2 separate regions of the Homo sapiens genome follow, and region 2 is linked to region 1. The links come from fine-mapping of genetic effects on gene expression. Tissue or cell type: whole blood. Region 1 holds a variant in brackets; the other region holds the start of a gene. All regions are shown on one strand. Distances are from middle to middle.

Region 1 (2,684 bases):
CTTCTCACCCATCTTCTTGAATACGACTCCCCAACACATGGACACACAAGCATGTGCATATACACACACACACACTCTTCACCCATCCATAAGGTCCATGCTCCCCAGGGATTCGGGAATCTAGAGGGTGCTGTCAGCAGCCTGTCTGGGGCCATAAAGCATAACTGCCAAGCTGCAGGATTGAAGACAAAATTCCGATGCAAAGATAGGAGCACAGATAGGGACATACAAAGGCAGATGGCACCATAGCCCAGGAGCCCTAGATCCCTGGATCCCTGGGTATGTGTGAGCAAAGGGGAAGGGAGTGGTAACGGAGAGGGTGAGAAACTCATGCAGCTATTTTGTAGTACCTTCAACTCAGGACTCCTCAACCTCTTAAAAACCAGTTTCATCTTAACTTGGTTTAACCAAGTTTGCCTTCAGTAACAGTAATTTTTTATTTAAAAGTTTTATTATGTGGTGAGAATGTTTAAAAACTTACTCTTAGAAATTTTGCAGTATACAATACATCATTATTAATTATGGTCACCATGCTATGCAATAGATCCCTAACACTTATTTCTCCTGTTTACCTGAAAGAGTAAATTTTGAATATTCTCACCCTAAAAAATTTGTAAGTAGGTGAGGTTAATTAGCATGTTAATTAGCTTTAATTTTTCTACAATGTATACATATATCAAAACATCTTATTGTACCTTGTAATTTATACAATTCTTTTTTTTTTTTTTTTTTTTTTGAGGTGGAGTCTCACCCTGTTGCAGAGGCTGGAATGCAGTGGCACGATCTTGGCTCACTGCAACCTCTGCCTCCTGGGTTCAAGCGATTCTCCTGCCTCAGCCTCCCTAGTAGCTGGGATTACAGATGCCTACCACCATGCCCAGCTATTTTTTTTTGTATTTTAGTAGAGACAGGGTTTCGCCATGTTGGCCAGGCTTGGTCTCTAACTCCTGACCCCATGATCCTCCCGCCTCAGCCTCGCAGAGTGCTGGGATTACAGGCGTGAGCCACCACGCCTGGCCTGTAATATATACAATTCTTATTTGTCAATTAAAAATAAGAGAATATTAAATAAGAATTAAAACTAGAAAAACATTTTATTATTGGCAGTATTTGGGTCATGCAAAAGAATATATGTAACATATCTCAGTATTGTCACACAATGACAACACAAATACTTGTGAGGCAATGAAGTTCACATGTCAATGCTGAGCCCCGTATCTCAAGTGCCCCTAACTTTTCATAGTCACATGACATTCCTTTTACAGAACATACAAACTTTCATGCTAGATATTGAAAAGAAGTCTAAAAATGCAGCTACCAGGGGGAATCAACAAGTTGGTATGAATGAGCTTCAGGCAAGGCATAAATGGTGGCAGCCAGTTATGAGAGGGTTGGAAGGGGAAAGGTTCTTCAGGCCTGGGGGATGAGGGGCAGGGAAGGATTCATACCTCCTAAGGAGGAGGAAGAAAGGGGGGCTAGATATTAAAAAAGAAAATGCCCCAAGTTTTATAAGACTTCTCCCACACGTGCACCCCACTAACTGTCTCTATTC[A/G]GAGACATATAAAAATTGTGGACAGAAGTACTTCAAAATCTGTTTCGTCACAGGTGAGAAAGTACACAGCTTTGTAGAGACTATTTCCAAGATGGTAATATTTATATCGGCAATATTTATAATTTATGGAGTGCATATTGAGTGTCTTATGCTAAACTCTGGGGCTATAACTCAGAAAAATGAGATTTAGAGCTCAGGCATGCTACAGCCCAGAAGGCAGACAGACAAGAACTTAGAAAATTCCAAAACAGTCTCAAAGGGTGATTCTCTTACTCCAGTTTGATACACACTTCCACTGCATCCTAGAGCCTCTTCAGAATTAAGATAAAACATTTCTTGGTGCAGTAATTTTTTTTTTTTGAGGTGGAGTCTTGCTCTGTCGCCCAAGCTGGAGTGCAGTGGTGTGATCTCAGTTCACTGTGACCTCCGCCTCCCAGGTTCGAGTGTTCTCCTGCCTCAGCCTACTGAGTAGCTGGGATAACAGGCATGCACCACCATGTCAGGCTAATATTTTTGTATTTTTAGTCGAGACAGGGTTTCACCATGTTGGCCAGGCTGGTCTCAAACTCCTGACCTCAAGTGATCTGCCCACCTCAGCCTCCCAAAGTGCTGGAATTACAGGCGTGAGCCACCACACCTGGCCAAGTGTAGTGATTTATTTAATGCCTGTCTTCGCTGATGTTTTGTTAGCTCCAAGAGACAGGACTTGTGTCCATCTTGTGGACTGCCATACACTGGCACCTTACTCTGGCTGGCGCTTAATAAATAATCATTATATAAGTGAGTGGGTAAATGAATGAATGCTAGAAAAGAGGCAAGCATGGCGTGCTGAGTGGCCAGTAACCATCCTGGGGGTCAGAGAGGCTTTGGGGAAGAAGTGATATTTAAGCCGAAACCTGAAGGAGAAATGGTATTTAGCCAGGTAAAGAAAGAGCAACGCTTCAAAAGCCCAGAGGCAAGAGCTCTTGGAGCAGCCTGAGGGTACTGGAAACGAAACTGCATGGCTGAAGCTTACAGATGCTGCTCTGTGCATGGGCTGTTGTGCAAAGTAGAAACTTCTCATCTCGAGGTGAATAAATTGCAGAAGGGCGTCCCCTCTCTAGGCCAACCAATGAGAAAAAAGAGACTTCCT
Region 2 (2,684 bases), 220 kb before region 1:
GACCAGCCCCGCACCCCCCTTTTCTGTCCCCGAAGTCCCCTCCCGGGTTGGCCCTATAAGCTGTCAGGCTGGCAGGCAGGGGTTAATTGCGCTCGCAGCTTCGGCACTGGGAAGCACCAGCGGGGCTTTGGAGCGGCCTCTGGAATAACCTTGGCTTTCCTCGCTCTTTTAATAGAACATCCGCCACCAAAAAGTGGTTTCAGTTCAGGGTTAACATGTCCCCTTCCACTCTCCAAACCAACACCCTGCCCCCTCCGTTTTTTTAAAAGTTGTTTTTCAAAGTTAATGAGTTTTAAGTTTCACAATGACTTTCCCCTTCCTTCTACGCGTTGCTGAGGAAACCCCCTTGGGGTCCCCCCCCCCCCCCGCCTCCCCCTCCCCCATTCTGCCCGGGCGAGGGGCGGGGCCGGGAGACCCCATGACGTCAGCGGCCGGCCCACATCCTGCTGTAGAAAGTAAAGAGACGGTAAAGAGAAACTACGGCCCCGCCCGTCCCGTCCCTCTTCCCGGACCAACCGCCCCCAACTGAGCGACCCCGCCAGGCCTTCCCGGGGCCGCGTGACTGGCCGGGCCCGCCCCTCCGCCCCCGCCGTGTGCTGGTTCCCCAGGCGTCGCGACCCAGGGCTCCCGCCCCCCGCGTCCCTAACCCCGCCCCTCCCCCCCGGGCTGCGCTGCCACCTCCTCCCGCGTCCCCCTCCCGTCCCTGCGGCGGCTCGGCCGGGCGGGGCGGGGAGGGGCGAAGCGGCGGGTAGGTGGCGGGGCCGGCGCGGTCTGGGGCCCGCCCCGCCGGGGAGACCCGGGGCACTGGCTCCGGGTTCGTGCCGGGCCGGGCGCCCATCCAGTCCCTACACCCGGTCAGAGCTGGCGGCCGCGCCGGCCCAGCTGGGCCCCGGCGCCTGGGCGTCCCGCGCCCCTCGCCCCGGCCTCAACCCCAGCCCCCGCGGGGACGCCCCCTCCCCCGCCCACGCGTCGCCGCCCGCGGCCTCCCCTCCTCCCGCCCCCGGGGATCCCCTGCCGCCCCGCCCACCCGCGGGAAAGCCTCCGACCTTCGCCCTGCCTCCCCCGCGCCGCCCGGCCCGCGTTCCTCCCGCCGGCCCCAAAGACGCTAAACGTGCCCTACTCTGCCCCGGGGGAGAGGTAAAGCCCGCGCCCGTCCTTCCCGCCCCGGGCCCCGCGGCCCCAGGGTCTGTCCGCCCGCCCCGCCGCGGCGCGCGCCCCCCAGCCCGGCTGCCCGGCTCCCTGGCGGCCGCGATCATGCCGTGGCTCCGGGCGCCGGCGAGCTTCGCCGCCTCCTCCGCCCGGCGGCTGCGGCCCCCGCCCGCGCGCCCCGCGCTCCCCCCCCCGCCCCCCGGCCCGCTCCCCTGTTTAATATTTCAGTGCTGGGTGGTGTGAGCGCCAGTCGCCGGCCTTCAGCGTGGCGGCTGCTGGGCGGCGGCAGGGTGGCGGACGGAGCGGGGGACCGGGGAGCGGCGGCCGCCGGAGGAGGTTATGTTTGTGTTTGGGGTTGTCAAGTGAAGGAGGGATCCCAGGCGCCGCCGCCGCCGCCGCGCGGGGGTCGCGGAGATCCCGAGCCGCGGCCGCCGCCATCAGCAGCGCAGCTCCAGGGCCGGCTGCAGCGGCAGCGGCTCCGCCGGGCGTCCTGGCAGCAGGTTCGGCGCGGGCTCCGCGGCGGGGGCGCTGCAGCTGGGGAGGGCGGCGGGGCGGAGGGGGGGGGGGGCAGGAGCACATCCCTTCGGCGGGCGGGGGGCGTGCGGGCGCGCGTGTGTGTGTGTGTGTGCGTGTGTGTGCAACCGCCGACCTTGCAGAGGGGATGGCTGCGTGCGGGAGACCCTTGGCACTTCTGGGCGCCCTCGCCGCGCGCGAGCCGAGCAGGTACAGAGGGACCCAGCCTCCCCAGCCGCCTTCCAGCCGCAGACGCATTTTGCAAGAGGGTGGGGGGTGAAAGAGACCAGGCCTCGGCATCCCAACCTCCCGGCTTTGTGGGTTTCTTTCCCTTTCGTTCTTTGCTCTAAGTGCCTGTTTACTCCCGGCCACCTGGGTAGTTTCTTTCCGGGTTGGGAGTGCGCGCCAGCTGCAGTTGGGAAGGGGGCGGTGGGTTGGGGTGCGGGTCGGCTCGGGCTCGCCTTGGGGTCGGGCTCGGGAAGGAGTTGCTGGCTGGAGAGGGGAGGGGGCGGCGGCGGAGCAGGCGGCGAGGAGGAGTCTCAGGGCTGCCGCGCTCGCCTCATCTCGTCCTCCTCCTCCTCAGCTCTCTGCATCCACTCCAGGCTCCTTCCTGAGCTGGCACTTCCATTCCCCCCCTCCTCCTGGCATGCGAAGCGCTTTGTTCAGTGCAGCGTTGCAGAGGGGTTTTCCCAGGCTCCGCCCTCCACATTCATTCATGTTTTTTCTCCTTGCAACTGTCTTTACGCTTTTTGATCGTGTCATGTTTTTGCTCCATGTAGTATTTATTTCTTTCCCGTAAAGGAACGGTTTATCACTCGTCCTAGTCGCTACAATGCTGCTGTCTTTGGAAATACCCACTTCCCCCCACAAGGATTTAAATATGGGATGGACAGCTAGGGACAGTGGGTAGGCAATGAACGGGGTAGCAGAAAGCCTTTACGGACAGGGAATGTGCATATTTTACATTTATGCTCCGGATCCCATGGGATCACATGATTGGATTACAGTCAGAGTTCACGCTT

The links. PIP is the estimated chance that this variant, and not a neighbour inherited with it, causes the effect.
Region 2: it holds the start of HIVEP1, and the variant in region 1 is fine-mapped to the expression of HIVEP1 in whole blood (INTERVAL, PIP 0.94).

What each region holds. Positions count from the first base shown.
Region 1 is chr6:12,226,071-12,228,754 of GRCh38, forward strand. No RefSeq gene overlaps it. Among named protein-coding and RNA genes, the nearest start is that of EDN1, 63 kb to the right of the region's middle. The variant A/G (reference allele first, on the strand shown) is at 1,553.
Region 2 is chr6:12,010,918-12,013,601 of GRCh38, forward strand. It overlaps HIVEP1 (HIVEP zinc finger 1), which reads left to right and starts at 1,395. Exons shown (of 9, transcript NM_002114.4): 1 at 1,395-1,649. RefSeq lists silencers at 320-1,229, 1,410-1,549.